Linked DNA regions of Homo sapiens. The protein of the gene in region 1 purifies or fractionates together with the protein of each later gene. This does not show direct contact. Each region holds a gene or a part of one and is shown in the gene's direction. Other genes may lie near its edges. The genes, in order: PYCR3, INAVA and PCMT1.

Region 1 (3,746 bases):
CCAGTCCTACAGACTCCCTGATTCTGACCTCTCTCTGGCCAGCTGCTGCCCCCAAACACACGGGTGCTGCGGGTCTTGCCCAACCTGCCCTGTGTGGTCCAGGAAGGGGCCATAGTGATGGCGCGGGGCCGCCACGTGGGGAGCAGCGAGACCAAGCTCCTGCAGCATCTGCTGGAGGCCTGTGGGCGGTGTGAGGAGGTGCCTGAAGCCTACGTCGACATCCACACTGGCCTCAGTGGCAGTGGCGTGGCCTTCGTGAGTATTGCCTCGTCCATCCCCGGCCCCACCCTCGGCAAAGAGGGGGCCCACCCCAGTCCCTCTGACAGCCTCTGCCCTCAGAGTCCAACCTTGAGGCCTGCGTGGTTGCTCCCCAGGCCCACTGGGAGCTCTGCTTGTCCCCGGGACTTCACTGCCTTGGGGATCTTTGAGGCCAGCCCCTTTGCAGACCGTTGGGCTCAGGCCTTGGTTCTGGCCACCCACGGCTACTGCTCTGGGCATTGTTCCTGAAGGTCCTGAGCCCCCAGGCTTTGACACCTATCCCCCCCAACCACCATGCCGCGGCTACAGGTGTGTGCATTCTCCGAGGCCCTGGCTGAAGGAGCCGTCAAGATGGGCATGCCCAGCAGCCTGGCCCACCGCATCGCTGCCCAGACCCTGCTGGTGAGTGAGGGTGGCCCCTGGGGAACATCGGGAAGGCCCAGGCCTGTACCTCTTCCAGTGCGCAGGGAAACAGCAGGCTCGAGAAGCTGGGGCCAAGGTTGGGGGATGCAACGAGGGCAGGCCGCACAGTGGGGACCGCACCACCTCCCCCCGTCACCAGGCCCTAACGCTCTCCTCAGGGGACGGCCAAGATGCTGCTGCACGAGGGCCAACACCCAGCCCAGCTGCGCTCAGACGTGTGCACCCCGGGTGGCACCACCATCTATGGACTCCACGCCCTGGAGCAGGGCGGGCTGCGAGCAGCCACCATGAGCGCCGTGGAGGCTGCCACCTGCCGGGCCAAGGAGCTCAGCAGAAAGTAGGCTGGGCTCTGGCCATCCTTTCCTGCCTCTGTGCCCCTGCCTCTCCCTGTGTCCCTTCCCCTGAGGACTGCGGCTCCCTCCCTCCTGCATGAGGGTCTCCTACTGCTCCTTCTCCCCTTGCACAGGGAAATGCAGGGGGCAGGACTTGGGAGGTTCCAGCAGGCGGGGGAGCCCCGACCAGTGGGGACACTCCTCCCTCCCCAGTGAGCAGAAGGCACCGTGGTGGTGGCTCTGCCCCTTGCTGCAGTGAGCCCACCTTGCTGCAACATTGGTTCTGAGGGGCCCAAGAGATGGCGTCTTGGTCATTTGCCCGCATGGTTGGGCAGTTGGTTGAGGCCATGAACAGAACTTACGGTAACAGGCACGGCTGGCCCAATGCCTGGTCTGGAGCTGGAGCTTGCCTTTGGCTTTCCAGGTGGCTCCGTGCAGCTACAGCCAGGCCGGCTGCCTCATCTCAGCTCTAGGGGGCACGAGCCATATGGGGTCTGCACAAGAGACCCTCTCCCCTGCAGTAAAGCCAGGGGCCCTGGCCTGATGGGGCCCCCATGGGGAGCTGGAGCCTGCCCTGCAGCCTGGAGAAGAGGGTGGCTGTGGTGGGCGTGCTCATCCCCTGCTAAGGAGCAGGAGCTGCTGGGCCAGGTCTGCGGCAGTGCTGGGGTGGCACCAGGTGGGCAGTGGTAGGTGGGGTGGCTTGAGGTCTGGGAGGGTGGCCCTGGCCAGCCAGGACACATGCAGACCCCTGGCTTTAGTCTGGATACAGGCTCCCTCTTTCCTCCCAATCCTAAGCTCCTGACAAGTGGCCAGGTGGCTCTGGGCCCTCCTGCCCCGTGCCTAGGTCAGGGGTCCTGGAATACCCCGTAGCTCTGGCACCACCACACTGGCCTCTGATGGCAAGACTTGGCCCCTCCACCTGTCCCTAACGGACGGCAGGTCAGGAAAGCCAGGACTCAGGGGAGAAGCAAACCCCCAGGATTGAAGGCTAGGGTTCTAGGGCCTTTGGGTGGGGAGGGCCCGGGCCGGACAGCCTCAGCTCCGTCCCCTGCCCCACAAGATTCACCTGGGCCTCCAGTCCCACGCTGGCCCCAACTGCTGCAGCTCTCGGCTTCCGCCCAACAGCCTCTGGAGGTGAGGCGGGAGCATGCCCTCAGCGAGGCTGGGCGGCGGGTCCTGCTGTGCCATCTCCCTGTGCGCCTGAGCAGATCAATCCACCAGTGCAAAACAGGGCTAACGGCACCTGCAGGACAGCAGCACGCTCCATCCCTCATGCTCAGCTGCCTCTGCGGCCACGGACTTCTGCCCTTCATCTGCTCTCTCTTACTCTCCTGAGCCTAGCCCGTCCGTAAGCTCCCTCCCCTGCCTGGTTCCCAGGGCAGGCTGACTCAGTTGACTGCTTGGTCCAAGCCTGGCCCTGGCACTTGTCAGGGTCAGCCTAAGGAGATGGGAATAAAGAGGCCAGAGAGCACCAAGTGAGCTCATGTTTCACCAGAGGTGGATAAAACCAAGTTCTGGGCTGGGCCCAGTGGCTCACATCTGTAATTCCAGCACTTTGGGAGGCCGAGGCGGGCAGATCACAAAGTCAGGAGTTTGAGACCAACCTGACCAACATGGAGAAACCCCATCTCTACTAAAAATACAAAATTAGCTGGATGTGGTGGTGCGTGCCTGTAATCCCAGCTACTTGGGAGGCTGAGGCAGGAGAATTGCTTGAATCCAGGAGGCGGAGATTGCAGAGAGCCAAGATCATGCCACTGCACTCCAGCCTGGGTGACAGCAAGACTCTGTCTTGGAAAAAAAAAAAAAGAAGGTCCAATGCCTGCCCCATAAGTTGAGGCCTGGAACCTTGGTCAAGCACAGGTGTCAGCCGAAGGGGGTGCTGGCACTGTGGACAGCAGAGGTCTCCCCATGCCTGCTACAGGCCTCTACATCACCTGGGGGCTTTGTAGGGCATGGAATTGCAGTTTCCCCTGCACGCTGTCACCCCAGGGGACTGTATGCCAAGCCTGGGCAGGCCTGGGAGCCTGGGGTCTGGTGCAGGCGGCCCCCTGAAGGAAGGTGGACAGCCCTTCTGACGGCCACCTGCATTCACACCAAGCCCATCTGCAAGGAGAAATCATTGACTTTGCACCAACACCTGTCTCCCCCTGGGACCTCTGACAAGCCCTGGGCACTAGGTGAGCTCAGCTCGGGAGGTGGAGATCCCAAGCCAGCCACTCCTGGCCCAGCTGGTGAGGGCCTGTGACAAAGACACGGGCTCAGTTCTCGGCACGGCAGGGAGCGTTGTGGTGAGCCAGGCCTCCCCTGTGCCTTCTACTTCCAGGTGAAAACTGTTCTTCAAGACAGAAAACGATGGATATGATTACGGTATCTTTGATCAATGTTCCACTTTTATGCCCTATGCCCCAACTGTTAATCTAGGGGGTATTCCTGATCCAAGCGTTGGATCAAGAGTTTAAAAATAAGACTTCAAAACAGGGATGCTCATGAAGTGGACATGTCCAGCCTTTATTAGATAAAGCCACTGGGCCCATCTGACCAGGCGAGCTCAGCTGTAAACAAGCTCGCCAGTTAGAGGAAGGGCCCTCAACAGAGCATGACCCCACAAGCCTAGGGACTCCGACATGCTGTTGGGGCTGCTCCCCATGGGTGTCTCAACTAGGTAGGTAAGGGGTTGGGGTCTCTGCAGGACCCCCCCGTCTGGGGGTGCTCCCCTTCCTTTCCTACCAC
Region 2 (3,746 bases), on another chromosome or scaffold:
GCTTACGAGGAGGAGGGCACTCCCCTGCGCTACCAGCGTCTGGTGCCCTCCCGCAGCCGCATCGTGCGGACGCCCTCCCTGAAGGACAGCCCGGCAGGCCGGGGGCTCAGCAAGGCCGCCGTGTCCGAGGAGCTCAAGTGGTGGCACGAGCGTGCACGCCTCCGGAGCACCCGCCCCCACTCACTGGACCGCCAAGGAGCTTTCCGGGTCAGGAGCCTGCCCCTTGGGAGAGAGGGCTTCGGACGAGCCCTGGGACCCCGGGCACAGGTACGGCTGCTCTGGAGGGACCCCGGGGCCAGGCAGGAGGGCTGTTTTGTTGGGGAGGGGCTGCAATTCTAGTATGTCCAAGGGTACAGAGGCATCAAAGCAGCAACCTAGTGGCCGGGTAATCCCCGTCTAGGAAGAACAGGCCAAAAAATCATTTCCTCTTGGCTTTGGAAGGCACTCTTGGCTTCCCTGGGGCACCTCCTAATTTTGCCTGCCATGTCTAGCTCAAGAGCATATACACTGGTGGAGATGATCCCCGAAGATAGCTGAGACTTTTTCTCTCCCTAAATGATGATGCACAAAGCAGATAAGCCTCTTCATAATCAAAAGTCCAGTCCAAATCAGCCCCTCAGATTTCCATTTGAAGGTCTAGGACAAAGGGAGAGTAGGAAATGAGTTGCAGAAGCCAGAACCTGTGATTTTCTGGGCATCAGCATCCTCCCTGACACCCCTCCTCACCACCAAGCCGAGAAGAAGGGTGGCATCAGAGTTAAGAGCACCCACCCTCAAGCTAGACCACCAGGTTCAAATCCCAGTTCTGCCACTTACGAGCTGTATGATTGGGCAAGTTACTTAACCCCTTTGGACCTAGTGTTTCCTCCCCTGTGAAATGAGAGTAGTAGAGTACCTATCTCATAGGGCTGCCAAGAGGCTGAAATGATTAGAGCAATGCATGGTAAGCGCTAGATATGTGATATTATTATCATCTGGGGCCACAGAGGCCAGGGAGCAGGCTGGAGGGTAGTATATAGGATAGAGCACCCTGACACTGGGTAGGGTGGCAGCCTTGGTTTCCTTGGCCCCTATTTCTTCATTCTGGAAGTGGGGAGCCACACACAGGAATCCTTTCTTTATTCTTTCTCCCTGGTACGGAGGGCTCTGCAGGTGATGTGCTCCAGAAGTTACCAACAAGCTGCTTCTTTGAGACCCCAGATTCCCAGCAGACCCAGCTGCGTGTCCCTCCCCCACCCACGGTTCTTTGGACTGCAGCTGGCATCCTGGGCCTGGCAGCACCCTGGCCCCGGTCCGAGGCCGCGCCCTCCAGCTGACGTGCTTTTCCCTTTCTGCGCGCTTGGGCCTGTCCTTGGCTGGATAGACCCAGCCCATCCCAACGTGCCAGACAGGGAGGGTGATGAGAAGTGAGCCCAGGAAAGGTGGGGGAGGAGGAGGTCAGGGCGCCTGTCACACCCCAAAAGAACATGGAGGAAAATGTGTAAAGGGGGTCCCTGAAGAACAGAGAGCATCCTGGGAGGAAGGGGCTGAGTGCCAGGGCCTGCTGCTGCTGCTGCTTCTGCTGGTCAGTGTCCCTAAGGGATAAGGATGGTGTAACTGTGCCTGCTGTCCCCGCTTTTCTGCCTGGTTCATTTACCCACCTGTCCTTTCTTCCTGACCCTGGCAGGTGCCCACAGTTTGTGTGCTGCGGAGATCGCCTGATGGGGCCCCTGTGCAAGTCTTTGTACCTGAAAAAGGAGAGATCATCAGCCAGGTGTAACTCTGCGCCCCACGCTGGAAAAAACTGTTTCATAGAGGGGCTGGGCTGAGACCCCCCCACCCCTGAGTGCCTCTTTCAGCTCCCCCATCCCCATCGCAGGCCGATGACCTGGAGCTGAGACCTTTTATTATTTTTTTTTTACACGACTTTTTTCAGAAGCCCTGACCTAAGGATTTATATATGTGGATTGTCCTCAATACCCCTGTGATATGATTATGTTTTATCCCCCAGAGTTTGGCCTACTGGACTTAAGGCCTTGCCTGTCTGACTGACAGCCTCTATCTCCTTATATAAGACAAGTGGCAGGGGACGAGTGAAGCAGAGTGAGCCACCTTGGGAGTTCTCCAACGCTCTGTGCTCTGGTTCTAAGAAATTCCCTGGGGAACTGCCCCTGGCCCTCCTGTCCCACTATTGCTGGAGGCTGGACATGGTACATACTCATGCACATGACTCTCCCCCATTTCCCAGGTCTCTGGGTACCCCAGCCTGGGCTGGGGGAGAATCTCTTCCCCCTTTTCTAATGTGCTCTGTGATGCACACACCAAGTGGTAGGTCAAAGGTCAGTATATCCCGGTGGTGTATTGTCTTGCTAGACCCTGCTATTTTCCTGACCCCCTAAATCCTCTTTAGGGACCCAGTCACTATACCCTGTCTATGCCCTGTGGGCTCCCAGACCCCTGAGCTTTGAGTCAGTGGCATCACAGTTTGTAGCCTCAGGGGGTCTGGCTGGGGGCTGGTCCATGCTTGTGGTTAGTGGACAGCAGCCACCCTTTGACAGCTACCTCTGGGCATCTCAAGGGCTTGCAGCCCCACTGCTCCTTCTAACATTTTGTTTGTTTTTGAGATGGAGTCTCGCTCTGTCGCCCAGGCTGGAATGCTGTAGCAAGATTTCGGCTCACTGCAACCCCCGTCTCCCGGGTTCAAGCGAATCTCCTGCCTCAGCCTTCCGAGTAGCTGGGATTACAGGCAAGCACCACCATGCCTGCTAATTTTTTATTTTTAGTAGAGATGGGGTTTCATCATGTTGGCCAGGCTGGTCTCGAACTCCTGACCTCAAGTGATCCACCTGCCTTGGCCTTTCAAAGTGCTGGGATTACAGGCATGAGCCACCGCACCTGGCCCTTCTAACGTTTTTTCATCATAGTCCCAAAAACCAATACTTTACAAGTGGTTTTGGAAAGGCACCACTTTTGTGGCATGTTCTGGTTGGGAGAGGGAGTCACAGTTCCTACTCCCCCCACCAGCTATGCTTCTGCTCTGAGAAGGTGGTTATTTATACAAACATGGACATACTCACTCCCAAGGGCTGATGAGATGCTGAATTTTCTTTGGGGGCATTCATTAATTGTCCCAGCTGCAGCGACTGGAGCAAGTCTGGAAGCTGCCTGTGCTAAGACCACCCAGCTGTCCCTGGGTTCTCATCCTAGGGCCTTCTTTGCTTCCAGGTCAGGGGACCTGCTTCAATGAGAAAGCAACTGAATTGAGGCTAGGAGAGGTAGGGAGAGCTGAGTTCTGACTTCACCTGTGCAGAACTCTCTGCCCCCATGTTACCTGGACTGGAACAGACTGTGAATATAGCAGAAGGTTCCAAGAACTCTGGTGTCTGACCTAGAAGAGGCACAGTTCTCTCTACTGGAAAGAAAACGATGTAGCCGATTGCACAAGGGTGCCAAGGGAAGACCCAGGATGGCCCATCAAAGGAACCTGGGGGAGGATGCAGGAGGCTGAAGGGATGCACCTGGCATTTCTCTCACTGTGCTCTTACCGCATCAGCAACCCCCAACTTTTGGGCCTACTCTGCCCCCCATGCGTGAATACCCTGCTTGGATGCTGTGCTTTTCCGGTTTGTCTCTAAGCCCCTTTCTCCAGGGCATGTTGGTTTCCCTGGCCTCTCAGTGTCCTAACTGGAGCCCAGAGTGCCTTGTTCTGAGCCAGGAGACGGCTGAGCACTGGCCCTCCACACCTAAGCGTCCTTTACATTAACTTA
Region 3 (3,746 bases), on another chromosome or scaffold:
CCAGGCTGGTCTTGAACTCTTGACCTCAAGTGATCTGCCCACCTTGGCCTCCCAAAGTGCTGGGATCACAGGCGTGAGCCACCGTGTCTGGCCTTAATTTGTATATACTAAATAAAGAACGTTTCTGCTTTCTGCCTATGGACACTAAAAGTTGTTTATAATGATGTCAAATGACTATTAATATAAAATCTGGGCCGGGCACAGTAGCTCACGCCTGTAATCCAAGCACTTTGGGAAGCCGAGGTGGGTGGAGTACTTGAGGTTAGGAGTTCGAGACCAGTGTGGCCAATATGGTGAAACCTTGTCTCTACTAAAAATACAAAAATTAGCTGGGCATGGTGGCGTGTGCCTGTAGTCCCAGCTACTTGGGAGACTGAGGCAGGAGAATCACTTGAACCTGGGAGGCAGAGGTTGCAGTGAGCTGAGATCGTGTCATTGCACTCCAGCCTGGGCGACAGAGTGAGACCCTGTCTCAAAAATAAATAAATAAAATAAAATAAAATCTGTAACTTGGTGATGTATGTGCTTTTTTTTTTTTCTTTTAGCTAATAGATCAGTTAAAGCCCGGAGGAAGATTGATATTGCCTGTTGGTCCTGCAGGCGGAAACCAAATGTTGGAGCAGTATGACAAGCTACAAGATGGCAGCATCAAAATGAAGCCTCTGATGGGGGTGATATACGTGCCTTTAACAGATAAAGAAAAGCAGTGGTCCAGGTGGAAGTGATTTTATCTTCTGCTCTTTCTTCTTCCACACATGCAAGGTGAAAGGGTGTGGATTTTAAGACATTAGACTACAAGAGCTGTTTTTGGTTGTCACCTTTATGCTCCTCCATTATAACGTCAGAAATTCATTACATTAAAAATGTGAAAAATGTTGCATGGTCTGCCCTTATTTTGGTTTAACATATATATCTTTGGGAAAGGGAGGGTGAGACTTGGTTGGCACAAAGGCTTTTTTTGTTTGTTTGTTTGTTTTTTTTTTAGAGAGACTTTCAGCTTCAATTCAGTACTTTGTAAGGATTTTTTCTTCATTATCAGCCACTCTGTTTTTATGTTTTTAAATTATTTTTATAGCACTGGATGGGCATGGAAACAATGAGTTTGGTCTGTAAAAGAGGCCAGGCGGAGTGGCTCATGCCTGTAATCCCAGCACTTTGGGAGGCCTAGGTGGGCGGATCACTTGAGGTCAGGAGTTTGAGACTAGCCTGGCCAACATGGTGAAACCCCGTCTCTATTAAAAATACAAAATCAGCTGGGCGTGATGGCACAGGCCTGTAATCCCAGCTACTCGGGAGGCTGAGCCAGGAGAATTGCTTAAACCCTGGAGGCGGAGGTTGCAGTGGGCCGAGATTTTGACACTGCACTCCAGCCTGGGAGACAGAGCAAGGCTCTGTCTCAAAAAAAAAAAAAAAAAAAAAAAAAAAAAACAAGGGGCCATCATTTCCTGCCCTGTTTATTGTACCAACAAGGAGAAAGAAGGGGAAAGATAACGGTCGTCTCAGTTTTCTAAAATGTCAGAATACCAGAGAGGACATTCTACCTCTCAGCTTGGTTTATCTGTTTCAACCAAATCATAGATACCTGACAGCCCATGCCTATTTTTCATTCAGCCTTGTTTAAGAGTCACCTTCTCCCCATTCTATAGAATAGGCCAGCCACTGTTTAAGCTATTCTGGCTAAATTCCTAGGAAGAGGCAAGGATTCTACAAGTTACCCAATGAGTGCCCAGGTCTCACAAACCCACCCAGAGGGTCAGCAGCATGCAGCAACTTTCAGCACAGCATGGTTTATAAAGAATGTCCACTTTTGTTTTATGTCTCAGCATAATCTGAATATTTTGTTTGAAGCCAAGATTTCTCTTTTCCTCCCCTTCCCACTCCCTTCCATGAGAGAGAGTGACATCAGTACATAACAGTGCCATTAGCTCAAATTACTTGAAATTAAATGCCAAAACAAGAACGGCTTTACAGTTTCCTTGTCTTAGCATCTTATTTTTATTTGACATAAAGATTCTTATTTTAAAATAATTAGTTTCTTAATAAGTAAAAGGGGTGATAATAAGTTTAATAGATCTCTCAATGTTGTTTTTATTCTTCACCAATAGCTATTTTCTGTGAATTATACGTGGAGCACAGCCACTGGAAAAAAAAAAAAAAAAAAAAGCATTTTAGTCCAGGCATTTTGGGAGGCTGAGGTGAGCCAATCATCTTAAGTCAGGAGTTTGAGACCAGCCTGGCCAACATGGTGAAACCCTGTCTCTACTAAAAACACAAAAATTAGCTGGGCATGTTGGCTTGCATCTGTAGTCCCAGGCACTCAGGAGGCTGAGGCAGGAGAATTGTTTGAACCCAGGAGGCAGAGGTTGCAGTGAGTCGAGATCACACTACTGCCTTCTAGCCTGGGTGACAGAGCGAGACTCTGTCTCAAAAAAAAAAAAAAAAAAAAAAATTAAAAAGGCATTTAAAAAATTACTGGTTTTTTCAACTGGAATCAGATGTAGTTATTAACAACTAACTAAAACCTTCCTTCACTTTGCTTCTAGTATGGTTTATACAATTACATAATTGTGAGATTATTGTAGTATAAAAGGGGCAAATATGTTACTGAAATTACTGAAATTTGATAAGAAGAGTTGATTTTCATTAGCAACTTAGAAATTTTTCTTTTTATATACAATAAATATTAGTGTTGAACATCTTGCCTATAATTTATAATTTATAATTATGAAGGAATTATAAAAAGGGAATTTTGTTTTTATGACTAGAGGTAGATTTACTGTGAAGCTAACAAAGCTGAAGCTGCAGAGCCCTTGCTTGTCTAGGTTTTCTCTGACCCTGTTCTTAATTTAATTTAATTTAAAAAAGTGTTTTTTTTGAGACGGAGTCCTGCTCTGTTACCCAGGCTGTGTAGAGCAGTGGTGCAATCTCAGCTCACTACAACCTCCGTCTCCCAGGTTCAAGCAATTCTCCTGCCTCAGCTTCCCAAGTAGCTGAGAGTATAGGCGCCCAGCTAAATTTTGTATTTTTAGTAGAGAAGGGGTTTCACCATGTTGGCCAGGCTGGTCTCGAACTCCTGACCTCAGGTGATCTGCCCGCCTCGGCCTCCCAAAGTGCTAGGATTACAGGTGTCAGCCACCATGCCTGGCCCTGTTCTTAATTTTATATTATGCATAGTCTTACTGATTTTTTTTTTAACTTCATAAAAAGGTTCCCCTGTTTTCTAATTATATAAACCTTAGGCCCCCACAAAACCTGAATCCACCTTTGATAAAACCAAACTATTTGTATTAAGAAATTTAAAATAGGGCCAGGTATGGTGGCTTATGCCTGTAATCCCAATGCTTTGGGAGGTTGAGGTGGGAGGATCACTTGAGGCCAGAAGTTCAAGAGAAGCCTGGGAAACATAGTGAGACCTCGTATCTACTAAAAATTTAAGAACTAGCCAGGCGTAGTGGTGTGCACCTCTAGTTCTGGCTACTTGGGAGGCTGAGATAAGAGGATCACTTAAGCCCAGAAGCGGCAGTGAGCTGTGATCACCACAGCATTCCAGGCTGGGCAACAGAGCAAGACCTTATCTTTAAAAAATATATTTAGAATAATTTTTAAATTTATGGACAATTAGTCATCTGCTAAACATTAAATGTATACCTGCTTTTAGGCTGGGCGCAGTGGCTCACGCCTGTAATCCCAGCACTTTGGGAGGCCAAGGCGGGCAGATCACAAGGTCAGGAGATCGAGACCATCCT

Evidence for each region.
Region 2: the proteins of PYCR3 (region 1) and INAVA purify together in Homo sapiens (co-immunoprecipitation; 2 studies listed by BioGRID and IntAct, with this or other methods). This does not show direct contact.
Region 3: the proteins of PYCR3 (region 1) and PCMT1 purify together in Homo sapiens (affinity purification with mass spectrometry; 3 studies listed by BioGRID and IntAct, with this or other methods). This does not show direct contact.

What each region holds. Positions count from the first base shown.
Region 1 is NC_000008.11:143,602,976-143,606,721, reverse strand, and holds the end of PYCR3 (pyrroline-5-carboxylate reductase 3), read left to right. Parts: intron 1-42; coding exon 43-255; intron 256-567; coding exon 568-660; intron 661-839; coding exon 840-1,022; 3' UTR 1,023-3,512; downstream 3,513-3,746.
Region 2 is NC_000001.11:200,911,871-200,915,616, forward strand, and holds part of INAVA (innate immunity activator protein), read left to right. Parts: coding exon 1-267; intron 268-1,666; coding exon 1,667-1,759; 3' UTR 1,760-3,746. UniProt on the Homo sapiens protein: Expressed in peripheral macrophages and intestinal myeloid-derived cells, is required for optimal PRR (pattern recognition receptor)-induced signaling, cytokine secretion, and bacterial clearance.
Region 3 is NC_000006.12:149,801,655-149,805,400, forward strand, and holds part of PCMT1 (protein-L-isoaspartate(D-aspartate) O-methyltransferase), read left to right. Parts: intron 1-545; coding exon 546-725; 3' UTR 726-762; exon of another isoform or gene 763-877; intron 878-1,470; exon of another isoform or gene 1,471-2,139; intron 2,140-3,648; exon of another isoform or gene 3,649-3,685; intron 3,686-3,746. UniProt on the Homo sapiens protein: Initiates the repair of damaged proteins by catalyzing methyl esterification of L-isoaspartyl and D-aspartyl residues produced by spontaneous isomerization and racemization of L-aspartyl and L-asparaginyl residues in aging peptides and proteins.